7 linked regions of the Homo sapiens genome follow. The protein of the gene in region 1 purifies or fractionates together with the protein of each later gene. This does not show direct contact. Each region holds a gene or a part of one and is shown in the gene's direction. Other genes may lie near its edges. The genes, in order: PFKP, ARFIP1, LTV1, NPEPL1, ALDH16A1, BCAR3 and OXSR1.

Region 1 (4,477 bases):
ATGATCTGATCCGAAGTTTCCTGAATGGAAAATGATTGAAAGGGTGGCATGCAGTAGCCTCGGGGAGTCAGTCCTTCATATCTTTTCAGCTGTGTCTTACTACGATTAAGATTTTATTTCTGTGTGTGTGTGTGTTTTTTTTGTTTGTTTGTTTGTTTGTTTTTGAGACGGGATCTTGCCCTCTTGCCCAGCCTGGAGTGCAGTGGCTTGATGTCGGCTCACTGCAACCTCCGCCTCCTGAGTTCAAGCGATTTTCCTGTCCCAGCCTCCCAAGTAGCTGGGATTACAGGCATGCGCCACCATGCTCACCTGATCTTTTTTGTATCGTTAGTAGAGATGGGTTTCACCGTGTTGGTCAGGCTGGTCTCGAACTCCTGACCTCAAGTGATCCACCTGCCTTGGCCTCCCAAAGTGCTGGTATTACAGGCTGGAGCCACTGCACCCAGCCTTATTTCTGTGTTTCTGTAATCATTGTGCATGTTAACAGACTGCCTTGGGTGAGTCAGGACAGGATTTTGGCAAAAGAACCAGGCCCTTTCTGCCTGGAGCTGTCACTCCTGTGGTGAGGTGCGGGTACGACGTGCCTGTAGCCTGACCTGAGAGGAAAAGCTCCTGTCTTATGAAAGGGCCCAGGGGAACCTCTGGTTGGGGCCCTTTGACCTGACCTGACAGTGAGGGAGGAGTCCGTAGAGGAGAGTGGCCCAGTGGAGGACTTTGGCTTTGCCTTGGGTGAACTGGGAAGCAGGTGGAGGGAAGCAGACTGACTGTCTCCGATAAGGGTGGCTTTGTGGAGAGGAGAGGAGGGGAGGGGAGGCCACAAGTTTAGGGTATCACAAGGAGCAGGCCACAGATGGAAGGTTATGGGGTGGGGCACGTGGCAGGGCAGCCCTGTGTCCACAGACACATCCCGCCAAGGGGACCCAGAGACTTGAGTGTGTCAGGGCTTGGGGTGAATGGGCACTCAGCTGTTACAGCTGGAAGGTAGAGCATGTGAGCTCCAACAGACACAGGCAGGTGGGGGTTAAAGGAGAATCTTCATAGCAGTGCTTAGAATAGCAAAAAGTGGGAAAACCAGCAAAAAACTATCAATAGGAGATTAATTAATTCCATTATGGCACCTGGAATGTGCCGAGACCAGCTCAGTCGGGGAGACCGTAACCCAGCGGCGCTAGAGGAATTAAAGACACACACACACAAATAGAGGTGTGAAGTGGGAAATCCGTGGTCTCACAGCCTTCAGAGCCGAGAGCCCAGAACAGAGATTTACCCACGTGTTTATTAACAGCAAGCCAGTCATCAGCATTGTTTCTACAGATATCAAATTAACTAAAAGTATCCCTTATGGGAAATGAAGGGATGGGCCAAATTAAAGGAATAGGTTGGGCTAGTTAACTGCAGCAGGAGCATGTCCTTAAGGCACATATCTCATGCTACTGCTTGTGGCTTAAGAATGCCTTTAAGCAGTTTTCCACCCTGGGTGGGCCAGGTGCTCCTTGCCCTCATTCCCATAAACCCACAACCTTCCAGCCTGGGCGTTAGGGCCGTTATGAACGTGTCACAGTGCTGCAGAGATTTTGTTTATGGCCAGTTTTAGGGTCAGTTTATGGCCAGATTTGGGGGGGCCTGCTCCCAACAGAATGGAAGGAATTTTTGTCAGCGTTTAATAAGGAGCTTTGTGCTGGTCGAAAGTCAAGAGGTACACAGTATACTCAAGGGCAGTATTGAAGAGCCGATTCCAGAGCGGCTTCCCTCTGGAGCCAGTGGGGCAGTTTGCAAATCCAGGCAGATCAGCTTCTTGGAGGTTTCTCCAACGGGAGAATCTCCCAAGAGTGAGGCTTGCATGTGGGTGGCCTGTGTTATATATGCAATTTTAAATGATCTAGTTGCCGCATTAAAGAAAGGCGGGGCAGGGGGCCGGGAGTGGGGGACTCTGGGTGCCAAGACTCAACATCTGTAATCCCAGCCCTTCAGGAGCCCAAGGCAGGTGGATCACTTGAGCCCAGGAGTTTGAGGCCAGCCTGGGCAACATGGCAAGACCTAGTCTCTACAAAAAATACAAAACAATTAGTCAGGCGTGGCGGTGCACACCTACAGTCCCAGCCCCGTGGGAGATTGAGGTGGGAGGATTGCCTGAGCCCAGGAGTTGGAGGCCGCAGTGAGCTGTGACTGCACCAGTTCACTCCAGCCTGGGCAACAGAGTGAGACCCTATCGCAAAAAAAAAAAAAAAAAAAAGTAGTGAACCCGGGAAGCGGAGCTTGCAGTGAGCCGAGATCGCGCCACTGCAGTCCGCAGTCCGGCCTGGGCGACAGAGCGAGACTCCGTCTCAAAAAAAAAAAAAAAAAAAAAAAGTAAAAACCGGTAAAAGCAAAAAACTATGTTTTATATTCAATCCACTATTTTGATAACAATCAATTATTGTAGATTATTCATATTTTACACTGTTTTCCGTAGTAAGTCTTTGAAACCCAGTGTGTAAAGAAGCTTAAAGCACATCTCCATGTGGACGGGACGCACGTGGCCAGCGGCTCCTCTGAGGGACAGTGTGGTCACGCAATGGGTGGCGTGTGCTGCCTGTATTTAGAAGGTCCCCATGTGGGTGTTTTTGCGAAGGCTCTGAGGGATGTGCAGGGGAGGGCCGACACTGTCCCAGCCACGCAGAGGACCCTGGAATGCAGCATGCTGCCGCCGCGCCCCCGCCCCAGCCCCTCTGCTACCTGAGCTCTTTCCCAGATGTCCATTTGGCTAAACTCCCTCAACTTCTTCCCTTTCCTTCTTTCTCCAAACGTCACTCTCAGGCAGGTCTGCAGGCTCTCCGATTGTCAATGGCAGCCCCTCCCTGTCCTCCACACCCTCAACACCCCCCACCCCGCTTGTTATTTTTCTCCTTAGCACTTACGGCCATCCATCCATGGGCATCATGCATTTGTTCACTGTGTTTCTTGCTTTCGGGTCTCTCCTGATCGGAACAAGCTCTTCCAGGGCCAGAGGCTTCCCATCTTGTCACTGATGCATCCACACAGAGCCCAGCAGAGGTGGCACTTGGGGCACCCGAGCTGGACAGTGGGTTGGTGGTTGAGTGAAGAGCCCTACAGATTTATCTCAAGCCCTCCCCTGACCCTACTAGAAGACACGGTGGTCTGCACAGTCCAGGAGGTCAGAGAGGCCCCCCAGTTCGATGACTTTGAACTGGCAGGGGTGGGGAGGGAACAGCACCTTGACAGAATCTGCCTTTGGCATCCCACCTCCCCATGCCTACATAATCCCTACATTATCAAAGGAAAGACCCCTAGAAGGAACTTTGGCAGCAGTAGTGAGATCAGCGCGGTGTAAGCTCATTTTCTAACAAAGCAGCGGGAGGAGTCGGCAAACTGACTTTATTTCTCAAAAAGAATTTATGCATTGAAATTAACAAGTGAGTGATCAGGAGTGTGGGAAAATTCAGGAAAAGTGGCTCAGTGCTGTGAGAGAGGGCGAGGCAGGGAGCTTTATTACTCCAGACAATGGAGGAGGTAAAAGATAGACCCAGATTATTTCATTAGAGTTCATCTATTCTTTACTTTTTTTTTTTCTTTTTTTTTTTTTTTTTTTGAGATGGAATCTCACTCTGTCACCAGGCTGGAGTGTAGTGGCGCAATCTCGGCTCACTGCAACCTCCACCTCCCGGGTTCAAGCGATTCTCCTGCCTCAGCCTCCCAAGTAGCTGGGACTGCAGGCGCTCACCACCATGCCCGGCTAATTTTTTTTTTTGTATTTTTAGTAGAGATGGGGTTTCACCCTGTTAGCCAGGATGGTCTCGATCTCCTGACCTCGTGATCCGCCCACCTTGGCCTCCCAAAGTGCTGGGATTACAGGCATGAGGCATCGTGCCTGGCCTATTCCTTACTTTTTAAAAAAAAAATGCAATTTAGATTTTATCAGAGCAGAATCCCAGGAAACTGAGATTTGTAAACTGGGAAATCCAGCTCCTCCAAGTAGCCAGGAAATAAGGGTGACTTAAGTCATGCTTGCTAGGCCCTGGTGTAGGCCAAGGATGACTCTGACTCAAGGAAGAAACCGTCCTGTGACTCTCTTACCTGCATTGTGGTTTAGTAAGAAGCTGTTAAAAAGTACGGCATATGAAGAAAGCGATTTAATAATTGGTCAGAGTAATGACCAGATCTTTCCTATGAAACCGCTCCCTCATTATCTCCAACTTTATTTTTGGTTCTCATGACAAGATATTCACTTCCCTGAAAACTGGGATTTTTGCAAATTACGAAGCGGTGTTTTTCCAAATGTTAAGGTTCTTCTTTGGTAGGAAGATGTTATTTTCTCCTGGAAATCCTTGGGTTGGGCTCCCAAAACCAAAACAAAACCAGATGGATTAGCCCCAGGATGCCTGAGCTATTTGGACAATCTGTGGCTTGAGTGTTGAGTGAAAGACTCTGAAACTGCCCTTTGTCCCTTAATGGCTGTGTGCCAGGGCCCACGGACAGC
Region 2 (4,477 bases), on another chromosome or scaffold:
TGTTGAAGTTAGTGAAAACAGGTTTTGTGTGTGTATGTGTGTGTGTGTTTTCCACTTAGGCAGTATCTTGTTGAAGTTAGTGAAAACAGGTGTGTATGTGTGTGTGCTTTCCCAAACTGTGCAAAGGAGATATATAGCTTCTTGATAGATTAAAACCACCACTTAGGCAGTGTCTTGTTGAAGTTAGTGAAAACAGGTAGGGGTGTGTGTGTGTGTGTGTGTGTGTGTGTGTGTGTGTTTTCCCAAACTGTAAATTGTTTGCTTTGGGACCAAGGAAAGGAGAATGCAGGGATTCTTCTAGTTTGATATTGAAATCTCTCCTTTAAAACATTAGTGTTTCTAAATTCCTTCCTAGACTTACAGAAGGAAATGAGGCTGCCCACTTTATTTCCTGATTTGTGGTTTTGAGGTTTCTTCTTAGGGATAGCTGTTTGTGGTCCATGCTCTGGAGATCCAGTGGATTTACAAACTGATGTGCCTATCTTTAATATGTATTAAATATCACCAACCAACTAGGCACAGTTCAGAGTAAAAAATTTAAATTCTAGTTGTATTTTGCTTTCATTTTCTTAATTTTTTTTGCTTGAGGCATGTACCTTAGGATTTGATTTGGCTTTGCTATGAAAAACAAACAAGATGTTTCAGTGGTGTGGTCCTTTGGAATGTTGTTGCTTATCTTGACATCCCCTTTCCCTCCATTCTGTATGAGATATTTTAATGATTGTTTCTCTCTTGTGAATACGTTAGTATCCTTCCAAGCTTAATGTAAGTTTTAGAGTACATATTTGAACTTACTGATTTGGTTGTGAATTATTTGTTGATTGAGGGTTGCAGTTCTAAAGGTCTGATACTTTTTTTTTTAGAATGTTAACTTGAAGAGACCTATACAGCTCATCATAGTCTATCATGAGTATCCAGTTTCTTCTGCTCACAGAATAAGTTTTCCTCTGTCTAGCAACCTCACTTGGGGGAGCAGTCAACATAAGTTTATAGAGAATAGCGTATGCTAGGCTGGGCACGGTGCCTCACACCTGTAATCCCAACACTTTGGGAGGCTGTGGCGGGTGGATCACTTGATGTCAGGAGTTCAAAACCTGGCCAACATGGTGAAACCCCATCTCTCCTAAAAATAAAAAAATTAGCCGGGTGTGTGTTGCATGCCTGTAGTCCCAGCTACTTGGGAGGGGCTGAGGCAGGAGAATCGCTTGAACCCAGGAGGCGGAGGCTGCAGTAAGCCAAGATCCCACCACTTCACTCCAGCCTGGCCAACAGAGTGAGACTCCATCTCAAAAACAACATCAACAACAGACTAGCTTATGCTAAATTAGTTTCCTTTTAAGGTAATGACAAATTCGGAAGATATTTTATATCTAACACTGTAACAGTTACATTTATTTGCTTACCATGTGCATTAAGCTAAGTGCTTTACATTATTATCTCAAATGATAACCTTATAAAGTGGCTAAAGTCCTCATTTCTGTAGGTGAAGAAAATAAAGCTGAATGATTAACTGAAGCTAAAGTAGTCTGCTCAGAATTGCGCTGGTGGAGCCAGTGCATGGCTCCACCTACGTTGTCTGACTCTAGACTACTACTGTAGACAACTTCTACCATGCGTCCATTATGTCCTTTTTGAAATGAGTTGGAGATATATCACCTGACTTTCTATCAGGTGTTGAGAAAAGGTTGTTTCCTTTCTTAATCTTCAGTGGATGAACATCTGGTTGAATATCATACTGAGAAGTTTGACAAAAAAGTGAATTTGGTGGAGGCAGTTGGTAGGGGTTTCCTATGGGGATGGATATAAGTCTCTGGTGTGTGTGTGTGTGTGTGTTAGAACACACACACCTACTTGAAATAAAGAATTGTAAGTATTATAAATTCTTGAAATGAAGATTCAAATAATAAGCAGATGGTGTGTGTGTATATGAGGAGGGGAAAATGTGAAAATGAAGATTATAAGTAATAAACTGGGCATTGTAAGAGTCTGGAAGTATAAATAAATTTTAGAATAATACATTTGGGATGGAAAGAATAAATTCAGAATGGAAGAAGGAGTAAATTAAACAGGAAACTTTAATATGGTTATGGATGAAAAACTAAAATATTTGTACAGAATGGAAAGTGAGTTGTTCCACTTAATATGGAAGTTGATGACTTAGGATCATGACAATCTAAAAGTCAGATATGTAGCACTACTTCTGGATGTATGAAAAAGACTATTGGCCTGAAAATAATTTTGTTTTCCTTGATCTTTAGTAGCTTTTGGCAGTCATGGAAGCTGCCGAATGGCTCTTGCAGATTAACAGATATTCTTTATGAGACAAAAGTATTTATTTTCTTTTTCTTTTTCCTTTATTCCTATTCTCCTCTTTCTCCCATCTCTCATTCCATTCTCCTCCATTCCTTCTAAGCCTTTGTCTTAGGATGGGCATAGGCAGGTGTTGCTCAAACCTTTAGTTGTTCCTGAAAAAGGAATATAAAGTCTCTTTATGAAATACACTTTTTTCCCTTAATGAACATACTTATTTAAGTGAATGCTGTTTTTCAGAGTAGGCAATCTGCTTTGAAATCTTCTTCTAGTATGACTGTCGGTTCAGATTGAGACATACAAAAATGAAGTTCTTGCCTGGCTTCGTCACTTCGTGACCTCAGTCACCAGAATCTGAATAACTTTGGGTATTTGGAAAAAATCAGATCCTCTCTTGAAAGACAAAGATTTGGGGATCTGAAGGTAGTTGCAAAACAGGCAATTGCTCAAATCTTTTGTGAAAATATGGCAGTGTCTTTACCATGTTCTCACCTAAGATAAGAATTTATATTTTATTTTTGTATATCTGTGATAGCATTGGACTAGCAGCTCCTTGATGTTGAAGCTTGAGCCTCATTGGTCCCTGGGGAACAGTGACATACTGCCTTTGGAACAGGATCATAAAAGCAGCAGAGTTAGTGGTAAGCCCTAAATCTTCCAGAGGAGGGAGTCAGTTCGCCAACTCCAGTTTCTGCTAGCCTGAGATACTCATCATGGCACACATAAAAAATGATTATAATTGTATGGCAGACTAGAGCCAGGCCCTCCTTGGTTCCTTGGAAGCTGTGGAGTGGGGGAATGGGTCACAATTTCAGCACATCTGTAATCCATTCTTGGCACACTGTTTGGAAATCTTTGCCCTAGAGAAAAGGAATATGTTACTCTGTTTAATACCTTCTGTTTGTTTAGCATGTAATAATTTACAAAGCACTTTCACATACATCCTCATTTTATTTTTACTCCAGCCATACCAAATAGGTAGAGCAGATAACATCACCACATTAGAAATAAAGAAATTGAGATTTAGGTAAAGTGCTTTGTCCAGGGTCACATACCTAAAAAGGGATGGATCAGGAATTTATACCCTCAGTGGAAAGAGCCCCTGGGTTTAAGCCCGTGATCTGTAATCTCTAAAATGGCCAGGACCTTATCTGTTTTGTTTCAGTGCTATATATTGCCCAGGGTGGTCTTGAACTCCTGGGCTCAAGCGATCTTCCCGCCTTGGCCTCCCAAAGTGCTGGGATAACAGGCATGAACCACTGCATCCAGCATAAGTATTATAAATTCTTGAAATAAAGATTCAAGTAATAAGCAGAAAATGGAAAGGATGTTTTTTCTATTCCTCTAATCTCTCCACCCACCACACCTCTCTCCCAGTTAATTTGAAAAGTAGGTATTGGGGAATCAGATGAAATATATGAGAAAGCTGTAAACCTGCACTGTCTAATGCCAGGGATGCTAGCCACATGTAGCTATTTAAGTTAGTTAAAATTAAATACAATAAAAGATTCAGTTCCTCATTGTACCAGCCACATTTCAGTGTCAGTATCATATGTGGCTGGTGGCTACTTTATTGGACAGTGCAAATTTAGAACATTTCCAACAACATTGGCCAGCCCTGATAAAACTTTAAAATGCGACATGATATGATGTGATACATAATTCCTATATTGTTGAACCACGAGTTTAAAAATCTGCTACCCATGGTGCCTAGCAGTTTTTGTTTTAGCTGATGAAATGTTATTGCCATGTTCTCTCTCAGCTTTTTGTTTTAACTAAATCCAGATGGTCAAAGTCTAAGTCTAACATTTTTCTTGGATATTTGGGGATTATAGTTAGCTGCTTTTCTAGGATAAAGATGTCAGCTTCATTAAGGGCATGAGTGTTTTCTGTCTGCTTTGAGCTGTAGATCTGTATGTCTTGCTGTCTTGTTGACATCCTTTCTTGAATATCTTAAAGGTATCTCAAATCCAGTATGTCTAAAATGAAACTGATTTCCCCTTCCCTCCCTACAAAACTGCACAACGTTGGTTCTTTCTTTGTTCCTTTTTTCAGTGAATGACACAATTATCTTTTCATTGTAAAATCCAGAAAACTAGAAGTGATCCTTAATTCCCTCTCCCTGATAGATCCAATGATTGAACAAGTTTTTAAAGTCTTACTTTCT
Region 3 (4,477 bases), on another chromosome or scaffold:
CACCTGGCCCCCCAGGTCTTTTCTTATAACCCTCCAAATAGATGATAAAATAAATTGTATGTTTGTTTCTTGACTCAAAATGTTGCACAGAAATGTCTAGTGGAAGGAGCAATTGTTATTTATTTTTATTGCCCTTTTAAAAGCATGAATGTTTTCATTCCATTTTAATGTTACGTAGCACTCTGGTTTTGAAGCTGTACATTTCCTGTTTGTCAAGAATTCTTTGTCTTTTTCCCATCAGCCAAAATGTTCATGTGCCATCTGCCTCCTACTTGGAAAGCTGTACTCATTGTAATATTCCCATGCCTTATCCTTGGAAGGCTTACTGATTCCATTTTGTTTATAGATAGTGAAGAAAGTACTAATTCCATTTCGTTTATAGATAGACAATGAAGAAAGGCGAGCAGAACAGAGGAAGTATGGAGTGTTCTTTGATGACGACTATGACTACCTGCAGCACCTGAAGGAACCATCTGGGCCTTCAGAGCTTATTCCCTCAAGTACCTTCAGTGCACACAACAGGAGAGAGGAGAAAGAAGAAACGCTAGTAATTCCAGTAAGGCTTTTCAGCAATTTAATTGTGGGAGTGAGGTGAAGAAATCATTTTTGAATCAAGATATCTGTTTGGGGCAAGAAATGGTGTCCGTATGAAGAGCACAAAGATAGACCACGCCTCCACTTAAAATTATATATGTGTATGCATGTGTATACCATCAGGAGAGAATAGGTCACGTCTTCTCTGGTGGCAGGTGTCAACAGTAACAGCCTTTTTATAGGTTCAGAACTTTTGATTGATAGACATGGCCATGTTAGACAGCACTTTTCAATAGGAGAAAAGCAGCTGACATTCTACATGTTAACAACATAACTGTTTTCAGGATCATAAACTCTTGTTCTAAGATAGGACTTAACTTTTGTGGAATATTCAGATCTTTAACACTTTTGTAAAAGCTGCAGGCTACTCATAAGCAAACAGAATGAGTGGATGATAATAACATTCCTGTCTTGTAAACAAATGTTCGGTCCACTTTAATACCTTCTCTTTCAGGACAAATGATAGTACGTGTTTATAAGAAATTAGTGCTGTTAGTCTAAGTTCTGTTTTCTCCCCTGTTTATGTTAAGAATGCCCATGTTGTATGCCTCCGTGACCTTATTTTTAATTTGATGTAGAGTAAATTTTCCTGTGGGAAACTTTTATATCACCTAGCACTTTAAAAAAAGGAGACATTCATTAGGTTTATAAGCAAAAGGTAAGAGATAGAAAGGGCACCAGTTTACCCTGCTCCTCATTCCCCAATTCTGTCATGGTCTAGGCATTCCTTTCCTTGGGGAAGATGTGATTGTAGTTCTTATAGGCAATAGCTTGTTGCTTAAGGAGACTCAGAAAGGTTAGGTTTCAGGATACCATCCCAAAGAAAGGTAATAACTGCAGCTGCTCGTTCACTAAGTAGGTTGTGGCTCTTTTGTAACGCCCCAAATCCCACCACATCTCTGTCATAGAGAACCAACTTCTTTATTCCTTCTTCCTCAAGGCTTTATTGGTAGTAGGGACTTATTGGCTCACTTGCTTCTATAACCTATTGAAGGAGAGAAGGGGTTCCTTAGTGGCTCAACTTGTTTATCTAAGGGAGAAAATTCTTAGTAAAGTCTTGCCTGGCTTGTATTGACCAGTACAAGACTAACTTTTGTTGTTGTTGTTATTGTTGTTGAGACGGAGTTTTGCTCCTGTTGCCCAGGCTGGAGTGCAGTGGCACGATCTCGGCTCACCGCAACCTCCGCCTCCCGGGTTCAAGCGATTCTCCTGCCTCAGCCTCCCTAGAAGCTGGGATTGCAGGCATGTGGCACTGTGCCCGGCTAATTTTGTATTTTTAGTAGAGCCGGGGTTTCTCCGTGTTGGTCAGGCTGGTCTTGAACTCCCGACTTCAGGTGATCTGCCTGCCTCGGCCTCCCAAAGTGCTGGGATTACAGGCGTGAGCCACCGCGCCCGGTCGTATAAGACTAACTTTTAATCCTTAATTCATTTTGAGTAAAAGCAATCACTAATTGGCTTTTTAACAGGATAAGGCTCTTAAATGGACACTTCAGTGACCTTTGCAGGGACAGCTGAATTGTATTTAAAAACAGAAGTGTGGTTGGTTTTCTGAAGAGCTATGAAAAAATATGGATTAGTCCCATATACTTTTTTTACTTTAATTTGTAACACACCACCAAATTCGAGTAGATTAGAAATAATGAATAACCCCTAGAAACAGTGTAAGACAGTGTAAAAAGGCAGTATAGAAATGATTGATGCTTGAGCAGGCCCTGATTTTGACATGAAAGAAAGATGGTGGTGCTGTTGTGGAAAGTAGCTGGGCAAATGTCATGTAGTTGAGAACTACTGCAACCAATGAAAACACAGCACTCCTCTAAAAACAGAGTAATTTCTCTTTAAACTCTTAATCGTGTATGTGATTGACTACTTTTCAAGATTTGAAAAATATCTCACAAAGGTAAATTCATTTAACACAAACTGACCTTGTGTTTAACCCCAAACTTCTAAGGATAAATATCACAAAGGTACCTTTTTAAAAACCTAAAAGACTATGTAGATTTTACTACAATTTTAAGTAATTAATAATGTAATATCCTTAAAAAACATTAAATTGTACACTTTAGGTGAATTGTATGTGAATGATGTCTTAGTAAAGCTGTTTTCTTAAAAATATACTCTACAGCAAAATAACATCTTTGCCCATGTTTGTGCTACTGAGAAACTCATTTTGGAAGCCATAACATCTTGCTGTGTGTACACTGCCATATGTAGCCTTTACTCATGCTCCTCAGAGGCTTCCAATTCAGAGAGCTTTCTCAGTGAGCCAATGAGGATGCACATTCCAGCTTTGTGCCTCCTCCTGGGCTGAGGATAGGGCAGGTGGTGAGGTGCACAGAGATAAATAACACATGGCGGTTGTCCTCACGTTATGAACTGTTTGGTCAAGGAGAGGAAACAAGCATAAGAACCAGTCAGAGAATGTAGGCTAGCAAGCACATGTTTGAGTAGATTGCAGCGTGTGAAGAAGGCGGGAAGTTCACACAAAGGGAAGTTCTAGGACAGTGATCAGAAAGGGCTTCATGTCGGAGGGTAGGAACCGAGCTGGCCACCAAGTGGTGGGTACTGTTGACAGGAGAAGGAACATTTTCAGTCAGGCTGCCGAGACAGTGAGCACTGTGGTTCCGTGTCAGGCACATGCGCGCCAAGTAAAGTGTTTTGCATTATTACATGACTGAGGAATGAACTTGATTTGCATGGTCATATAGAATAACTGAGAAATTTGGATACACAGAGTAGGCCTTGATTTTATAGGTCCTTGAGAACCAGGGCCTTAAATACAGAGTGAAAAATTGAGACCTGTCAGAAACTCAAGAAGGTCACATGAAAAACTATTAAAGGAGCTTAATCTCGCCATGGGTATGAAGGTTGTAGTAGATATAGACTAGCTATATGAGCGGTTGCAGTCATTTATGTTTTGGTTAACTATAAATGAGGTGATGCCCCAAAGAATAGAGTGAAATCACTGTATGTAAGAGATTTCAAGGGGACATAGGACAGAGCAAAATGATTTATAACCACCCGAGGATTTAAGATTGCCAATTCATACAAGGGCTGTGCCATTACTAGAGATTAGGACATTATCTCTAGTTTAAGAGGAAAATGTTTAATTTTGGTTTGAAATTTCAGGCAAGTGGAGTTAAGAAACTCTGGGATTTGAATCCCAGAATCTCACTTACTGATCATTCTCAGGCAGGTGGGCCATTTAAACTTTCCTAGTTTTTGTTCTTTTGGTAAAACATGGTGATACCTCATGGGATCTGAGGGATAAATGGAATAATTTGCTAGAGAAGGCATTGTGATGTATTATAGAGAGTTACTTTTGGGTTTATGATGGAATATACATGTTTAACATATATACAACCTGGAGCACAGGTGAGAGAACACAGAATGTAGTTGTAATAGTTTCCTAGGACTGCAGTAACAAATTACCACAAACTAGGTGACTTAAAACAACAGAAATTTCTTCCTTCATGGTTCTGGAGGTCAGAAGTTTGAGATGAAGGTATCAGCAGGTTTGGTTTTTTTCTTGGGGGCTTAGAGGGAGAGGCTGTTGAATGGCTCATTCCTAACTTCCGAAGGTTACCGGTGATCATTCCTTGGAATTCCTTGCCTTATAGAGGCCTCACTCCAGTCTGCTGTCATCTGCACATGGCATTCTCCCCTGTGAGTCTCTGTCTTCATGTGGTCTCGTTATAGGACCATGGTCCAGTAAGACCTCATCTTATTATAGTTGAGAGGACCCTATTTCAAATATGGTCAGTCTAAGGTTCTGGATGGACATTGATTTGGGGGGGACTTCAACCCGGTACACTAGTTAAGAAGAATTTCCAAATAAACCTAACCATTGTGCAATTTCTTTTTCAAGAGCACTGGAATTAAG
Region 4 (4,477 bases), on another chromosome or scaffold:
CATCTAAAAATACTTTGCACTAAAATTCAAAGCTTGTGTAATAAGATAAGGGTTCAAAAATGATTCAGTAAATTTCATACCCAAACCTTTACCTCTGAGGACCTGCTGTTAATTTAAAATATGAACTTGTGAATTTGATTTGGGAACCTGTAAAATGTAAAAATGTGTAACACTGTCAACCAGCGTATAGGAAACAGTGTGGACACTGCAGGAGAAGGGTGGCCCCTCTTTAGACCCAGGTTAACCAGGAGGTGTGAACTATTAACCAGGAGGTGTGAACTAGCAGGAGGGCAGAGGTGGCCCCTTCTTCTGGCGATAGACCTGGCAGTGACATGAAGGAGCGACAGGTGTCCTCACTGCTGGTGGTGTCAGTGGGGGTGGATGTGACTGATTTTGGCGAAGAGTTCACATCAACCCTCACCATCATTCAAGGTTGTGATGAGGGGCAGAGAATGCTGAGCCTAAGTCTCGTTAGGTGGTAAAGCCCTCTAAGTGCCAGGGAGAGGAAGCTAGGCCCTGTTCTGGGGGGCGACAGGTGGCCAGGGCAGGTTTGCATTGCGGCAGCAGCCCCTCAGGCTTCCTCCCTGCCATAAGCACACTAGGAATCTGCAATGGGTGCAGGAAGCACGCAAGCCCACCCAGGTCCCTGAGGTGCTGGCCAGGGACCTCCAGCAAGCCCCAGAGGCTCCCTGGACCTCAGCTTCCTTCTCACGCTGTGCGGAGGAGTGGAGAGAGTGGCCCTGCAGACAGACCCCCAGGCGGCGTGGCAGCCCGGGACTGAGGTCAGGGTGCCCGGCGTCAAAGCACGGGGTCCCTGTTTCAATGTCAGAGCCCGGCCACAGCGAATTCTGCAGCTCCGGGCATCTCCTCGGGTTCCCCCTCCGTGCAGTTACTGTTTGATAACCCCAAAGTTCTGTCAAAACAAAAGGGAGCCTCACCATCTATGGCCATGACTCCCTGTTGCTTCTGGAGAACACCCCACTTGGCCAATATGAGGTTCATGAGTTCTGTGGGTGCCCAGGAGGCCTGGTGTGGGGGCTGCCCAGGCCTGAGAGCTGGGGAAGGTGGGGCTAGCGTGGGGCCGGGTGGGGGTGGGGGGCTTCCGCTGCCAGGCCTGGACCTCACAGCTCACCTTTGTCCTGGTCCCTTTGTACCACCCGCAGACTACCATGCCGGGGATGAAGCGAGACTGCGGGGGTGCTGCGGCCGTCCTGGGGGCCTTCAGAGCCGCAATCAAGCAGGTGAGTGGGCCCTGCCCGCCCTCTGCAGGGGCATCCTGGGTGTGCCTCGTGGGTGCTCCCCTCTCCCCTGTCCGTCCCGCCACAGGCCCCACCAGGGTCCTACCCGAGTCTCCCCAGCGGATGCTTGTCCCCCCTCTGCCCCCAGGCTCTTCTGGGGCCCCCAGAGCTTCCCGCCTTCATCAGAGCTGCTCTGGGAGGCCCCGAGGGCAAGGTGCAGCCATGTTCTCTGCTCAGGGCCTGCCTTGGCTCCAGAGCCCCATGAGCGGTTGGCTCAATGAGGAAGCCTGGCCTAGACCCTCATGGCATGTGGCAGGCAGAAGCTCATGGCAGGGGCACACGTTGTTCTGCGTACCCCTCCCGCAACCCTTCTTTGCAGCAGAGCTGCCTCTGGTGACTGGTCTCACCAAGTCACCACCTCCAACCCCCAGGCCTGGCCAGGCCCCCTTCCTCTCTTGCGTGGGCAGGTGCCCCAATGCTTAGCCCTTGCTCAGTGGCAGTAGTCACTCGGGGGGCGTGGGGGGGGTGGGGGGTGACCTTGAGTGACCTTCCCATGGAGCCCAGATGTCCCTGGGGCCATAAAAAGTGCTTATTAAACAAATGAAGAGGCCAGCTCATGCTGGTAATCCCAGAACTTTGGGAGGCGGAGGCAGGAGGATGGCTTGAAAGCCAGAAATTCAAGACTACCCATAGCAACCTTGCAAGACCCCGTTTCTATAAAAAAAAATTTAAAAACTAGCCAGGCGTGGTGGCGCGCACCTGTAGTCTCAGCTACTTGGGAGGCTGAGGTGGCGGAGGATCGATTGAGCCCGGGAGGTTGAGGCTGCAGTGAGCTAAGATCCCACTGCTGCACTGCAGCCTGGGAGATAGAGCGAGACCCTGTCTAAAGAAACAGGCCAATGAGGAGTGTGCATTGACTCATCAGCCGAGGTTTTACCTTCCTAGCCTACCTTTCTCAGGCCAGCAACCCAGTTCCTTGGGGTAAACTTGAAATGGAAAAACAAAAAGGCCTTGGCAAGTAGTTTCCAATCTGGAGGGTCCTGCTCCTGGCCGTGAGGGAGGAGGAGGAATCCCAGGAGGAAGGAGCTCCTTCTGCCGGGGCTTCCCAGCTGGCCGTGCACATTCCAGACTGTGTGACGGGCTTCTGCTACCAGGCCCAGCCGGTGGGGACACGGAGGTGCGGGGCTGAGGCGGCCTGGGCAGGAGGGGCTGGCAGGCCCTCACCTGTGCTCTGCACGGGTTTGGAAACGGCCTCTTAGGGCTCACGGCTGTTTCTCTCGTGCTGAGCACACAGCTGGGGCTGTACGCAGCCTGCAAGCCCCATGCCTCCATGAGCACCTGCCGTGGCCCGTCCACTGCAGAGCCTGTCGGAAGAGGCTGGAGGAGGAGCATGTGTCCTCTGTGCGCTACTCCTTCACTGGTTATAAACTACCAAGGGACACGGCTGGCACTCAAGGAGGGTCTTGACTGCCCCAGCATCATAGGCCACGGGGCAGGGTGGCTCTGGGCTCCCACTACCTGGCCCTCCTCCTTGCCTCTGCCCAGGCCCCGTGGCTTTGGCAGATGGGCTCACCAGAAGAATGCTGAGGCGGACGGGCCCAGCTGTGCGGTGCTCGCTGGGCAGCTCTCTCTGAAGGGAGCAGTTGCTGCTCTGGGGTGGCACGGGGGCAGGGGTGGGCAAGTGGTTCTGGAGGAGCCGTGTGGCCAGCCCTCTGTGGCCGTCTTTGCCGTTCACCCCTGGTTACTCCTCCAACAGAGGGTCTGTCCTGCCTCTGGGACAGGCTGGCTGGGAATGCCCCAGCAGGAAGACTCTTCTGAGCTTGAATTCCCTGTTCACAGGAAGCCACTTGACAAATGATCACAGATTCATCAGGCAGCAGCCGTGAGTGTTCTCAGCACTCCTCCACCTCTAGAGGTGCTGCGGCCTCTAGAGGTGGAGGAGCACCTCTAGATTTGAGGGGTGCTGAGGACACCCCACCCCCACTCTGGACAAAGATCCCCCTCCCACAAGAGCTCCAGCCTGGAGGCTCCACTGTGAACGCGAATGTCCTGCTTGGCCTTCACATATCCTTGTTGGCCTCTTAGAAAGGAATACGCCTCTGTCTGAGCCACAGAATCAATCCTCAGGGTAATGCATTTACCCAGAGAATAAAATCAGCATCCACGTGTCCACACTGGTAGGAATAGATCACTGAAGGAATAAATGAATGGGGGAGAACCGTTTCTCACACTGAATCCCAGTTTCAGGCTGCAGAGGTAGTGATGGAAACAGGAAGTCGTCACCCCACAGCCAGGCTTCATTCCAGGTGAGAGTGGCCCACAGTGCTGGAACTGGAGCATGAGAGTGGGATGGGAAGAGGACAGTCAAATGCTCTCAGAGTGCCTCTCGCAGCTTTATAGTGGTGACACTCACAACCCAGCCTAACCAGGTGTCCCAGGGCATGTCACCAGGGCAGGGACAGAGCCACCTGACATGCCTCCAGAGGCAGTGTACAGGGAAGGACAGAGCATTTCTGCAGGATTCCCACCAAAAATGCATGGCCTGCCTGTAGTCACAAGGACACGTCAGACAAACCCAGCACTGAAAGTGCCAAGGCCACAAAAGACAAAGCCAGACTATGCAGTCGCCCAGATTAAGGAGGGCAAGCAGGCCAGGCTTGATGTGTGGTCTGATCTGATCTGGACGTCTGAGGAGCACATGGAATCTGGATGGTCCCGAGAGGTGATGGTCCTGTGTTGGTGATTACTACCCCCTGCTGCCCATTGTCCCATGGCTGGACAAGATGCTGACATTGGCAGAATCTGGGTGAAGGGTGTTGAGGAATTGTTTGTGGCTTTTTTTTTTTTTTTTTTTTCCCCGAGATGGTGTCTTGCTCTGTTGCCCAGGCTGGTGTGCAGTGGTGCGATCTCGGCTCACTGCAACGCCTCCCAGGTTTAAGTGATTCTCCTGCCTCAGCCTCCAGAGTAGCTGAGATTACAGGCATGTGCCACCACCCTTGGCTAATTTTTGTATTTTTAGTAGAGACAGGGTTTCACCTTGTTGGCCAGGCTGGTCTTGAACTCCTGACCTCAAGTGATCCGCCCACCTCAGCCTCCCAAAGTGCTGGGATTCTGGCATGGGCCACTGCTCCTGGCTGTTTGTGACTATTTCTGCAATTTTTTTGTAAGTTTGAAATTATTTCACAGTGAAATGTTTTGAACTTTTTAGAAAGAGGATGTACCATTCAAAGATGGAAGGG
Region 5 (4,477 bases), on another chromosome or scaffold:
AACCCAGGCTTGGAATTCGGGCCCAGCCCCACCGCCTTCCACGGCAGGATCATCAGCAAGTGGCTTCACCTCTCCCTACCTCAGTTCCCTCATCTGTACAGTGAGTGGGCACACAACCCGCCTCGTAGAGTAGCGTTCGCCAGATGATGGATAGCGACCCATTCCTGGACCCTAAAATCAATTTAGTGGGCTGTTAGGCGGTTCTCACATTGCTGTAAAGAAACACCTGGGGGCGCAGTGGCTCACGCCTGTAATCCCAGTACTTCGCGAGGCTGAGGCAGGCGGATCACGAGGTCAGGAGATCGAGACCAGCCTGGGCAACACGGTGAAACCTGGTCTCTACTAAAAATACAAAAAATTAGCTGGGTACGGTGGTGGGCACCTATAGTCCCAGCTACTTAGGAGGCTGAGGCAGGAAAATTGCTTGAACCCAGGAGGCAGTGGTTGCAGTGAGCCGAGATCGTGCCACTGCACTCCAGCCTGAGTGACAGAGTGAGACCTTGTGTCACAAAAAAAAACAAAAAACAAAAAATACCTGGCCAGACATGGTGGCTCACGCCTGTAATCCTAGCACTTTGGGAGGCAAAAGTGGGTGGATCGCTTGAGGCCAGGAGTTTGAAACCAGCCTGGGCAACACAGTGAAACCCTGTCTCCACAAAAAATAGATAAATTAGCTGGGCATGTTGGCACCAGTCTCCCTCTGGCACCCGGCTGGAGTGCAGTGCCACAATCATGGCTCACTGCAGCCTCAACCTCCGAGGTCCAAGTGAGCCCCCCACCTCAGCCTCCTGAGTATCTGGGATCACAGGCACACACCAGCACACATGACTGGGTGTTTTTGTATTTTTGCAGAGACAAGAGACTCGCCATGTTGCCCAGGCTGATCTTGAACTCCTAGCTTCAAGTGATCCGCCTGTCTTGACCTCCCAAAGTGCTGGGATTATAGGCGTGAGCCACTGCGCCTGGCCAGGGATTACATTTCAACATGAGATTTGGGTGGGACATCTGAACTATATCATGGGCCAAACCATATTTCTTTCTTTCTTTTTTTTTTTTTTTTGAGACAGAGTCTCGCTCTGTCGCCCAGGCTGGAGTGCAGTGGCGCAATCTCGGCTCACTGCAACCTCTGCATCCCAGGTTCACGCCATTCTCCTGCCCCAGCCTTCCGAGTGGCTGGGACTACAGGTGCCCACCACCACACCCGGCTAATTTTTTTTTTGTATATTTAGTAGAGACAGGGTTTCACCATGTTAGGATGGTCTCGATCTCCTGACCTCGTGATCCGCCCACCTTGGCCTCCCAAAGTGCTGGGATTACAGGTGTGAGCCACTACACCCGGCCTTCTTTTTTTTAAATTTTATTTTACTTTAGTTCTGGGATACATGTGCAGAACGCGCAGGCTTGTTACATAGGGATACACGTGCCATGGTGGTTTGCTGCACCTATTGACCTGCCCTCTAAGTTCCCTCCCCTTGCCTCCCACCCCCCAACACCATATTTATTTTTAACAAAAGAAAATAGACCAGGCGCAGTGGCTCACGCCTGTAATCTCAGCACTTTGCGAGGCCAAGGTGGGCAGATCACAAGGTCAAGAGATCGAGACCATCCTGGCTAACACAGTGAAACCCCGTCTCTACTAAATATACAAAAAAAAAAAATTAGCCGGGCATGGTGGCAGGTGCCTGTAGTCTCAGCTACTCAGGAGACTGAGGCAGGAGAATGGCGTGAACCCGGGAGGCGGAGGTTGCAGTGAGCCAAGATCGCACCACTGCACTCTAGCCAGGGCGACAGAGTGAGAGTCCGTCTCAAAAAAAAAAAAAAAGAAAGGCGGTTATGCAGGATGTTTCTCACCGCCCGAACCCCCGTGGAATGATTCACTTTGACCAGCGTCTGCGAAATGGCAGGGGCTTCCACAATGGTGCGGTTTGGGCCAACACCAAGTGTTGGGGAGAATGTAGAGGAACTGGATCTCTCATTTACTGCGGGCGGGGCTCCCCTGCCCCACACGTGACCCACCTGTCCCTGCAGGTAGCCGGGCTGAGAGGCCCTGTGCTGCGCCTGCGGGAGCCGCTGGGTGTGCTGGCTGTGGTGTGTCCGGACGAGTGGCCCCTGCTTGCCTTCGTGTCCCTGCTGGCTCCCGCCCTGGCCTACGGCAACACTGTGGTCATGGTGCCCAGTGCGGCCTGTCCTCTGCTGGCCCTGGAGGTCTGCCAGGTATAGCCCCCTGCCTTCCTGCCTCTCCTCCCCGTAGCCTCAGGGCAGCAGAAAAAGGCGCCCCAAAGTCGGCAGGAGCTTGTCTCTTACCCCACCCTCCGTGGTACCCATGCTGCCCCCAGCCCCAGCACCCAAACCTTCACTCCTTGGGGACCCAGTGCCCATTCTTCACCCTAGGCCTGGGGCTTTCTCCTCCATGACCCCCCATCCCCTTCCCTCCCATGGGCACCCCCTGAATGCCCACTCCTTGCCCTGCCCCCACGGCCTCCCCAACCTTTCACTCTCTCTATCCCCTAGGACATGGCCACCGTGTTCCCAGCAGGCCTGGCCAACGTGGTGACAGGAGACCGGGACCATCTGACCCGCTGCCTGGCCTTGCACCAAGACGTCCAGGCCATGTGGTATTTCGGATCAGCCCAGGTGCTCTTTGTTCTGTTTTGCCATCTTCAGCATCTCAAACTTCAAACAGGCTCCTCCTTTTCTGGAAACACAGCCCCGCCCTCTTAGAACTCCTGTTGGTAAGGGGAGAAACTCCTTGACAAGAAGGTTTTGAGGCCCCGCCCTTAGGACTCAAGTTACTAAGGAAGAGGCTGTCCTTAGCAACAGGGGCCTGAGAGCTGCCTAGCCCAAAGACCTCGTCTCAGGGGACAGCCCGTTGCTAAGGACCACACCCTAGATTTGGAGGCCCACAGTCTACGCTTTGTTTTTCTATTTTGAGACAGAACCTCACCCTGTCACCCAGATGCAATCATACCTCACTGCAGCCGCAACCTCCCAGGCTCAAGCCACCGTCCCACCTCAGCTTCCTGAGTAGCTGGGACCACAGGCGTGCACCACCATGCCCAGCTAATTTTTTTCTTTTGCAGAGACTGGGGTTTCTCTATGTTGGCCAGGCTGATCTTGAACTCCTGGGCTCAAGTGATCTGCCCGCCTCGGCCTCTCAAAGTGCTGGGATTACAGGTGTGAGCCAGCACAACTGGTTGAGTCTACTGTTTTTTTTTTTATTTTATTTTATTTTATTTTATTTTTTTTGAGACAGAGTCTCACTCTGTCGCCCAGGCTGGAATACAGTGGCACGATCTTGGCTCACTGCAACCTCTGCCTCCCGGGTTCAAGTGATTCTCCTGCCTCCCAAGTAGCTGAGACTACAGGCACTCACCGCCATGCCCAGCTAATTGTTGGGGGTTTTTTTTTAGTAGAGATGGGGTTTCGCCATATTGGCCAGGCTGGTCTCGAACTCCTGACCTCGCGTGATCTGCCTGCCTCAGCCTCCCAAAATGCTGAGATTACAGGCGTGAGCCACTGTGCCCAACCAATTTTTACTTTTTAAATGGAGACGGGGTCTCGCCATATTGTCCAGGCTGGTCTCAAACTCCTGAACTCAAGCGATCCTCCCGCCTCAGCCACCCCAAGTGCTGGGATTACAGGAGCGAGTCACCGCGCCCCACCGTCCACTCTCTTAAACCTCCTGTTGGTAACAGATGTGAACTTGTTGACAAGAGCCTTGGGGCCCATTCCTTTCAACATGGGCTGTTAAGGGAGAGGAAATTCCCTAACCACTGGGTCCAGTGCTTTTCCCTACCATCTGGAAGTTCTGCTTGGGAGGAGCTGGGCATTGTAGCTGCAGAGCCTGGGTCCAGCCTGAAGCCCCTCGTCAGTAACAGTCTTCATCGCGGAGGAAGCAGGTGCTCAGCAACAAGCCTGCAGAAGTGCTTACCCCCGTCTCTTCCTCCCCTCAGGGTTCCCAGTTTGTCGAGTGGGCCTCGGCAGGAAACCTCAAACCGGTGTGGGCGAGCAGGGGCTGCCCGCGGGCCTGGGACCAGGAGGCCGAGGGGGCAGGCCCAGAGCTGGGGCTGCGAGTGGCGCGGACCAAGGCCCTGTGGCTGCCTATGGGGGACTGATGCCTGAGCGCCACCTACTGCATTTTGGACACCTCACACCAAGGGGAGATGCACCCCACAGACACCTGGGACTTTCCCCTTCTGGTTCCTGTGTCTCCCAATAAACTCTCTGACCAACCCTAGCTGTGCTTCTGCGAGAAGAAAGGGTGTAGCAACTTCTGGCAGATATGAGGCTTTTTTCTTTTTTTTTTTTTTTTTTGAGACAACGTCTGGCTCTGTCACCCAGGCTGGAGCGCAGTGGCACAATCTCGGCCCACTGCAGCCTCGACCTCTGGGGCTCAAGGGATCCTCATGCCTCAGCCTCATATGTAGCTGGGGCCACAGACATGCACCACCACACCTGGCTCGAGGCCATTTTAGTT
Region 6 (5,119 bases), on another chromosome or scaffold:
ATGGAATCATATAGTATGTACCCATTTGCGGCCAGCTTCTTTCACTCAATATCCTATTTGTAAGATTCACTCATCTTGTTGAGTGTAAATGAGTTCATGCATTCTTATTACTATGTTGTATGTTACACAGTTTATCTCTCTTCTGCTGATGGACATTTGGGTTGTTTTCTTTTTGGCCGTCATAAAGAGATACATTATAAACATTTTTCAACATCTTTTGGTGAATATGTGTATACATCTCTGTTGGGTGCACACTTAGGGGTGGAATTGCTGGGTCATAGGATACATGTTAATTTAGCTTTTCTAGATAATGCCAAGCAGGTTTTTAAAGTGGTTGTAAAAAGTTCATTTTGACGAGCAGTATGGTCAGGCCCTTTAATTTTAGTCATTCTGGGTGGTATGAAGTTAGATCACATTGAAATATCAATTTGCATTTTTGGGATGGTTAATAAATTGAGATATTTTCCATATGTTTATTGGCTTTTTTGAGAAATGCCTGTTTGTCCTCTCTTGAGGACAGTTGAAATATTCTGCCTGTTTTTAATTGGATTTTCTGCCTTATTCTGGCTGATCCGTAGGTGTTCTTTATATATCTGTAAACAAACCTTTTTTGGATGTATGTGTTGCAATTATGTTTTCTCACTCTGCGGTTTGCCTTTTCACTCGTGGTGTCTTTTCATGAACAGAAGCTCTTAATTTTAATCTTGTCCAATGATGAGTTTTTTTTCTTTATATTAGTACTACATGTGTTTAAGACATCGTCTTTGTCTACCCCAAGGTAATGAAGATTTTTTTGGACATTTTCTTTGGATCGTGTTATTGGTTTACTTTTTACCTTTAAAATCCATCTGGAGGCCGGGCGCGGTGGCTCACACCTGTAATCCCAGCACTTTGGGAGGCCGAGGTGGGTGGATCACCTGAGGTCAGGAGTTCGAGACCAGCCTGACCAAAATGGTGAACCCGTCTCTACTAAAAATACAAAAATTAGCCGGGCATAGTGGCGTGCGCCTGTAATCCCAGCTACTTGGGAAGCTGAGGCAAGATAATTGCTTGAACCCGGGAGGCGGAGGTTGCAGTGAGCCAAGATCATGCCGTTGCACAACAGCTTGGGCAACAAGACCGAAACTCTGTCTCGAAAAGAAAAATTCCATCTGGAATTGACTGGGGATGGGGGGATTCAGTTGATCCAGCATCATTTACTGGAAAGAGAGAGCTAATCTGACCCCCAATACAGCACAGCAGCACCTGACATAAATCAAGTGACCACATATTGTAAATCTGTTTTTGGACTTTATTCCATTGGTCAGTTTGTCTATCCTTCTACTATTTCTATGACTTTATAATGGATCTTGATATAAGATAGTGTTAAGTCTTTTCCAGTGGGCTCCAATTTTTCACCCCACCAAATCATCTAGTGCTGAAGTGCCACCGCCAACTCGCACTTTGCTTTCAATACGTCCATACGAGTGCAATTGATTTGCCTGTTCCCGTGGATGGTTCATTTGTGGTTACCTGGGGCTTTGTCTCATCAAAGCCCTTCACATTGAAAGCCAGCCAGGTGTCTGCAGACGAGCAAAGCAGATCTGTTGGGTAATTAAATAACGCGGGGAAGGGGAAGGAGTGGATTCGACGAGGCTGTCTCTGGAGAGAGCTTCAGAAAGGAAGTGATCGAGCTATACTTGAGGACTGGCTCCTTGGGGAGATACGAAGAGAGCCAAACTCTAAAATCCGGGCAGAGGAGGGCCTGGCTAGGTCACCGAATGTAAATGTCTCGGGGGGTTCCGCAAGGCAGCGCGAATCGGCTCGCCGGGGTGGGGCCGCGGAGCCGCAAATCACCAGTTGAGGGCCGGAGTGCGCGCCGCCGGCTCAGAGCTGCGCCTGCTGCTGGCCGGGCGGGGGACGGGGCCGGGACCGGAGCCGGAGCTGCGGGGCGCACCGGCTAGACGCGCGCGGGATTCTCGGCGGGCACGCCCCGCGGACCATGAGCGTCCCCAGCTCCGGGAGCAGCCGCGGCGCGGGCGGTGCGAGGCCGGCCGCGCGGCGCCTTTGAGCCCCAGCCGGAGGTCCAGAGATCCTGAGAGCCCGAGCGCCCAGCGCCGCGCCGGGAGGTGAGTCTCCGCCGCGCGCCCAGCGTCCTCGGGGTGCTGTTCCTCCCGGGGCGCCTGGGCCTCCCCCACCCCGGTGAGGACACGCTAGGAAGTTTGTTGGACAAAGTTAGGCTCTGGGGAAAGTAGAGCCGGCGTTTGTTGGTCCCTACCCACCCCCGCCAGCGGATTTGGCGTTGGGGGCGGGGGTGACTGAAGTGGGGCTGGGGCTTGCGCTCTCCAGGCCCTCCGAGCGCGCTGGGACTCCCCGAGACGTGGCCCACGGCGGGGAGCGCTCAGCGATTGGCGGCCAGGCATCTTGCTCGGTGGCACTCGAGCGGCATCTTCCCGGGCGCTGGCCTCGCCCGACCCCCTGCCCGTCGGAGCTGCTCTGCCGGCCACCCCGCCCTGTCCCGCCCGTCCCCTCTTCGCAGAAGCCGGCCGGGGTCGGGCAGATGCGAGGGCCCAGAGCGCTCTGGTGGAAGCCCAAGGCTCCGAGGAGGCGAGTTTCTCCGGTAATCTCTTGGGAAGTTTGCAAAGAAAGCGAAGGAGCCTGCCCTGTAACTGTTGACAACATCTCCCTCCCTCTCTCCCTTTGTTGAGAAAGAATGAATAGTTGGTTGTGTTGCTCCCTCTGCGTCGCGGTGGGGAGAGGCGAGGGAAGGCAAAGGAAGGGAGGGACGGTGGGAAGGAGGTTCCGATAGATCGTACAGCCCAACTGTCCTTACCCACTTAGGCCGCTGAGGGCGCCGCCGCTTTAAAACGGTGTAATCAGGTGTAGACACTCGTCGAGGAGGAGGTTGAGCGGACTCCGAAGCATCTGGCAAGGCGGCGTGTTCCGTGGGGCGGCGGGTCGGGTCATGGTTGGGGTTAACTCGCTTGAAGCAAGGTGCAAAGGAGAAAAACCATTTTCCTAACCTCATATCTGTTTTCGCTTAAAGCTGTTAGCTGAGATGGAAAGTAGAGCCGTGCATTCAGATTGTTTTAAACCTTGACTTTATCTCCCAAGGCTACACAGACCTCCCCAAGGAAAGTACGCTGGCCGAGGGAAGGTCATTTTGGGAGCTGATAGCCTCCCTTGTGTTGCCTGGGACTGAGTTGAGATCCTGGAGGCTGGGAGAGGCCTCAGTGCTGGGGGTGGGGCCCAGCTCAACACAGGTCCAAGTGGGAAGGGGCTACCCGGGTAACAATGGGAAGCCCACAGGCAAAGCGCTTGTCTGCGGGCGTGCCAGGGGGTATTGAGGATAACGTAAAGACCTTGCCAAGCCAGGGGATCCCACACCACTCCAACTCCAACTTTCTCTAAAGTGCTGCTGAGAAGGCTGGCATTTCCAGGATGACTAACCAAGGTCTAAATCTCCTGTTCATATAGGCAGAACTGCTTGTCAAATGGATGCTAATCTTAAGAACCTTATCGGGTAAATCCTGTACTGTGTTGCTTGAAATACAATCCATGGAGGAATTATTCATACTTGAATCATTTGGCTAGACTTCATAAGTTTACTTCAAAAATAAAGAGATACTCTTAATTCCTAAACCCAAGCAAAACTTCATTTTAAGTGGATAAGCCAATTGAATATGTGTGGTTGTTTCATCTCCTCTCTCCATCTGACTCTCCAGAGAAGTTATAAAACTACAGATCCAAGTTGTAAATTCTCTGTCATGGGGCAGCCGAGACGGTTACATTTCCAGAGTTTAAAATATAATGAAAAGTTCTTAAAGCTCACATCAGATAACCATTATGAGTTAAACTTGAAAATATCCCGTTTCAGAAATAAAAGAGTAAAATCCAAACAAGTGGGCTGCTTATCTCTGCCTCAGCTTGCAAGATCATCAGTTTCTTTGAGACATCATTGTAAAGCAAGTGAGTTGGGCCTCAGTTCACAAACATTTCAAAGCCCAGCGACTGACCAGGCCCAGGAAGGCAGCACATGTGGTAAAGTTTGTCAGCCTCGCTCTTGTTCCTGATGTTCACATGAGTCTCAGATTTTCATATCAAGATGCAGAGTCTTTGACTTTTGTATAATATTTCAAAATCTGGCATTAGACTGAGTCAGGACATTGTGTTTGTTTTCCTGCACAGTAGAGAGAAGTCAGATGGCCAGAGTCTCACCTGGGCTTTTTTCTAAAGACTGCATGTAGGCTCACTTGGTTTGCCTGTACGTGTGTCTGTGTCTGTGTCCGTGTCCATGTCCTACTTGGCTTGGTGTCTTTGCATCTATTGTTCTAGGTTAAAACGTTTCCCTCCCCATCCTTCCCAGTTGCAGTCTTCATTTGTGAACTCTCAGAGTTACTTCCTTTGTGAACCCTCAGTATAACAGAGATACAGTGACTCTTATCTGACAAGATAGATAAGAGCAGCCCCTGTCCTGCTTAGAGGGGACCTGCTATTTACTAAGTGTTTGCAGTATTTCAAGAACTTTGTATACACAATCACTTTTAATCTTTACAACAATCTTATGAAATAGCTGTTAAGTCATTTTTTAAAATGAGAAACCGTCAGGTTGAGTAACTTGTCCCAGGCCATACAGCTGGTAAGTCAGTGGCAGAGTAGAGATTTGAACCTGTAGATATCTGCCTCCAAAGCCTAGGTTCTGAGTCATACCATTTTATTTTTAAAAAATCAAATGGTACATAAGAAGTATATAATGACTAGGGACATTGAGACAGAAATATTTCCAAGTGGAGAAAACATGGGAGCCAGAGGCTGGAGACTTGGGTTTAGTCTCCATCAGCTGTCATTCCAACCGCTTGTTCCTATGGCAAGACCTTTGCATTTGCCAGATCCCTTGCCTGGAACCCCCTTCAGACCTTTTTTTGACTGGCTCCTTCCCTTGCCTTTTTTCAGGTCTCATGTCATTGTTACCTTTTCAGAGAGGCCTTCCCAGTCCACCCTAATGTAAAGTAGCTCTCCACCCGCAACAGTCATCCTTTGTCAGTTCATCCTGTTTATATTCCTTAGCGTGCTTACAACTTGGATGTTAACTCATTTTCTTGTTTGTATAGGTTGGATTCCTCCATGAGAGCAGGAGCTT
Region 7 (3,448 bases), on another chromosome or scaffold:
ATGTTTCCCTTTGAGTGGCCACTCTTCCTCTGTCCATGCCAGGAAACCTCTGACCCCAGAGACCCTTGGCTATTCATAAGAGAAACTATTAGCCAGTCTGACTCTAGCTGTTTACCCAGCCCCCCTCTTTTCTGGAATAAACACCTTCGTCAGTCTCCTATTTGTATCCTAGGGACCTGTTGCCCACTGCCTACCTTCCCACTATCCCATGTCTGTTTTATTTGCTACCTGCAAGTTTGTTTATAAATAATCACAGTTTCTCATTTTGTTTGGTTCTTAGGCATCTGGTGTCGAAGGCTCAGATATTCCTGATGATGGTAAACTGATAGGATTTGCCCAGCTCAGCATCAGCTAAACCACAACCCTGGAAGAGGCGGCCTAAGGAGATTCCACACATGCGTATCTCTGTTGCTTCTATTGGCCTAAACCCACTACTGCCAAAGAACCCAGCAACAAACCTCCCGGCTAGGAGCTTTAGAAGTCTTTATGTTCTTCCTGCCATCATTCCTCCTTTTCCCACAGGGAAAGAAAAGTTGGATCACTAGTGGCCAGCATCCCCAGAGTTCCGTTAGTAAACTTACTTCATATGTCCCCTGTCTTCCTCCATCTGAGAAGTGGCCCATGTGCTTCAAGGCCCAGGAGGGAGATCTGTCAGCTCATTCTTGCCTTACTCCAATGATGGCCCAGGTGGAAAAGTAGCAGCTGTATCGGGCTTCCTCATCCTGCCTGTTCCCCCACACCTGCCAGGATATGGACATCTTGGGATATCTCTTTACCACTGAAGTAGAATTGATTGTTCAGCTGGAGCCCAGAGAATTTAATTTAATGTTTTTTCTTTGTACCTGATGTGAATTCTAGCAACCTTTGTTAGGAAAAAGCACAGCCTCAGATGGAGGCAGCCTAAACTGTGTTCTTGTTTTGTTCATGGTGTTTCTAAGCGTTTTGCTGAAGCTGCTCTCAGGCACCCCCTTCTTCATTGCTCTCTCCAGAAAGGGTTGCTAGCCTTAACTTCAGCTGGTGCAAAACATCTGACTGTAGCCGAACTTCAGCCATCAGATCCTTCAAAGTGGAACTTTGGATTGTTTTTACAGACAACATCGAGTAATGGCTTGTAAATGTGAATTTTGCCAGAGGTGGTTTTTGAACAGGAAAATCATAATTCATATCATTGGAGAAGTATTTATTTTCAAATATCAAATTGAAGAAAAACTCAATCCTCCCATGAAAATCAGTTCGCCTGGCCTCCAAGTCGTGAGGAAATGGGTATGCAAGGCTGAGATTTCTACAGCAATAAAGGAGACACACACTGGGCCAGAGAGGCCTGCCTTCTGCCTGCTCTCCTGCACTGACCCTTTGGAGGGGGTCTCTGTGTGCTGAAGCTAACTCAAGATGGAAAGTGAAACCACATGTGCCGTGACCTTTAGGTTTTATGAGTAGACAGTGTTCATTTGATTTTCTACAGAAATAATATAAATTATTCTTTAGGTTTAAAAAAGAGCACTCATAATGCAATATGTGAATAATCAGTGAGGTTGATTTTTCTTTTTTCCTACCGTTTCATAGTCTTTGTCTAACTGCTAGTAACCCTACCGAGTTTTATATATGAGTGGGATACTCAATCTGGCCTTAAAAAGATACACAAAGATGGGCTGTGGGTCCCTGGAAAGGGGGAGAGTTGCCCTTTACAGAATCACTCGAGCCCTTTCCAGCACTGTTGGTCTGATGAACAAGGTTGTTTTACCTTATTTTCTCTTGGAACATATCTGAAAACCTTCCCCACAAATAACTTGTCACACCTTTTGTTTCATTCTGAGTCTTTAGTTTTAGTCATGGGCTTTCTTCACCTGCTCTAGGTGCAAAGGCATGTTGGGAAAGAGATGGATGTTGGGGAGGAAGAGAGGAGATGGATTTCAGTTGGGAGTTAGGAGGAGAGTAGGTGAGATGATCAGACACCGGAGTTCAACGTCCCAGCAGTCTTGGTAAAAGGAGGGAGCCTGCTGAGCCAGGAGGGAGAAAAGAAGATTGACCAGCTTGCTAGAAAAATACTTAGCTTTTCTTTTTCTTTTTTTGTGGAGGGGGGACGGAGAGGAACAAGGATGGGGAGGTAGGAATGAGGTATAGAAAAGAGATAGCATCTTCTTTGGCACAAGACTAGTGGCTTACCGCTTACCTTAGAGTTTTGTTTTTTTTTTTTCAAACCCATCAAAATCTACTTATTTATGAATCCAAGGGGTGGCAGCATCACTCTGTTCTAGCATTCTTTGTGGAGATGGTCTGGTGCCTAGCTGGGAGTGAGCAGCAGCCCATCCCCTGTTCACTTTCTCTAGCCCATCATTACCTGTGAACTGCAGTGGGGCAGTCATGGCAAATAGAATTGGGCTGGGGTTTCTCCTTCTTTTCAGTTCATTGTTTGCCCTGCTAGGAATTAGAAGACAGACACCATGTCCCAGGACAGTGTTACTTCTTCTGCATGATGTGTGGTAGACTCCCTTTGCTGGCTTGTGCAGTGATACTGAGAAAATACATGAACAGAAACTGCCCAGGTGGAACAGCACGTAACCTAGTGAGTGACTGTACTCCTTTCTAGGAATGCTGATTCAGAGTGCACCTCTTTGACTAGGTCCCAGGATCCCCTTGTCCCTGGAGTAGGGACTAACTATAGCACAAAGTAATATGTGCCAATGCTATTTGTGAAATGTTTGGTCTTTCTAAACGACTAAAGGATTTGTTGGGTTTTTGCTTAAGTTTTGAACCAAATCCTAGAGCCAGCTGATAATATTTAATAATCTGGAGGAGAGAATAATGATGTACCAATAAGTGGAGATTCCTCCTTATGATGTATGCTAGGTTATGGAAGATGTAAAATATTCAACTTTTTCCTCCTTTTTTTGGACTTTGTATTTTACTGCATGTTTTCTTCATTTTTAATCAATAAAGAGTAAATTGTCCTTAGTGGTGTATGGACGCTTTATTTTAGTGGCCGTTGGCGGAGAGCTGTGGGTTGTGGGTCAAGGAATCACCACCAACTTTAATTGTTCATGCGAATAGAAGCCAAAGTACATATAAACTGTAAAGTGTGTCTGTTGATCTACAAATTATCTAGAACCATTAAAGCCATTATATAGTTGGGGAAACTGCAACCCTAAAAGGGAGGGATGAGATCAGCCCAAGGAATTGGATAGGATGGGATATGGAACTCCTTTTATTATCTTTTGATCTTTTTTAAATCTTTGGTTTTGCTTATGCTGTTGGGCAAGGAAGGATGCCAGATTCAAGCCCTTGGGAGTCTCTTTCGAAAGTTCAGAACAGGGCTGAACTTATCTCTTCTTGGCTTTGATATTGCAATGGTGAAGTTACATGTAAGATTCTAGGCTCCTTTGTATTCCTGTTATCCTCCCACTGCAGGAGGAATCTTCCCTCATCATCTGCCCTTCCCAACAGCAGTGGC

The links.
Region 2: the proteins of PFKP (region 1) and ARFIP1 fractionate together in Homo sapiens (co-fractionation; one large-scale study listed by BioGRID). This does not show direct contact.
Region 3: the proteins of PFKP (region 1) and LTV1 fractionate together in Homo sapiens (co-fractionation; one large-scale study listed by BioGRID). This does not show direct contact.
Region 4: the proteins of PFKP (region 1) and NPEPL1 fractionate together in Homo sapiens (co-fractionation; one large-scale study listed by BioGRID). This does not show direct contact.
Region 5: the proteins of PFKP (region 1) and ALDH16A1 fractionate together in Homo sapiens (co-fractionation; one large-scale study listed by BioGRID). This does not show direct contact.
Region 6: the proteins of PFKP (region 1) and BCAR3 purify together in Homo sapiens (co-immunoprecipitation; one large-scale study listed by IntAct). This does not show direct contact.
Region 7: the proteins of PFKP (region 1) and OXSR1 fractionate together in Homo sapiens (co-fractionation; one large-scale study listed by BioGRID). This does not show direct contact.

Annotation. Positions count from the first base shown.
Region 1 is NC_000010.11:3,073,692-3,078,168, forward strand, and holds part of PFKP (ATP-dependent 6-phosphofructokinase, platelet type), read left to right. Parts: intron 1-4,477. UniProt on the Homo sapiens protein: Catalyzes the phosphorylation of D-fructose 6-phosphate to fructose 1,6-bisphosphate by ATP, the first committing step of glycolysis.
Region 2 is NC_000004.12:152,782,022-152,786,498, forward strand, and holds part of ARFIP1 (arfaptin-1), read left to right. Parts: intron 1-4,477. UniProt on the Homo sapiens protein: Plays a role in controlling biogenesis of secretory granules at the trans-Golgi network. Mechanistically, binds ARF-GTP at the neck of a growing secretory granule precursor and forms a protective scaffold.
Region 3 is NC_000006.12:143,845,669-143,850,145, forward strand, and holds part of LTV1 (protein LTV1 homolog), read left to right. Parts: intron 1-382; coding exon 383-556; intron 557-4,462; coding exon 4,463-4,477. UniProt on the Homo sapiens protein: Essential for ribosome biogenesis.
Region 4 is NC_000020.11:58,705,960-58,710,436, forward strand, and holds part of NPEPL1 (probable aminopeptidase NPEPL1), read left to right. Parts: intron 1-1,163; coding exon 1,164-1,241; intron 1,242-4,477. UniProt on the Homo sapiens protein: Probably catalyzes the removal of unsubstituted N-terminal amino acids from various peptides.
Region 5 is NC_000019.10:49,466,353-49,470,829, forward strand, and holds part of ALDH16A1 (aldehyde dehydrogenase family 16 member A1), read left to right. Parts: intron 1-2,028; coding exon 2,029-2,214; intron 2,215-2,511; coding exon 2,512-2,634; intron 2,635-3,953; coding exon 3,954-4,115; 3' UTR 4,116-4,477.
Region 6 is NC_000001.11:93,678,587-93,683,705, reverse strand, and holds the start of BCAR3 (breast cancer anti-estrogen resistance protein 3), read left to right. Parts: upstream 1-1,868; 5' UTR 1,869-2,108; exon of another isoform or gene 2,109-2,181; intron 2,182-2,335; exon of another isoform or gene 2,336-2,599; intron 2,600-2,851; exon of another isoform or gene 2,852-2,907; intron 2,908-3,456; exon of another isoform or gene 3,457-3,477; coding exon of another isoform or gene 3,478-3,502; intron 3,503-5,119. UniProt on the Homo sapiens protein: Acts as an adapter protein downstream of several growth factor receptors to promote cell proliferation, migration, and redistribution of actin fibers.
Region 7 is NC_000003.12:38,252,537-38,255,984, forward strand, and holds the end of OXSR1 (serine/threonine-protein kinase OSR1), read left to right. Parts: intron 1-280; coding exon 281-355; 3' UTR 356-2,948; downstream 2,949-3,448. UniProt on the Homo sapiens protein: Effector serine/threonine-protein kinase component of the WNK-SPAK/OSR1 kinase cascade, which is involved in various processes, such as ion transport, response to hypertonic stress and blood pressure.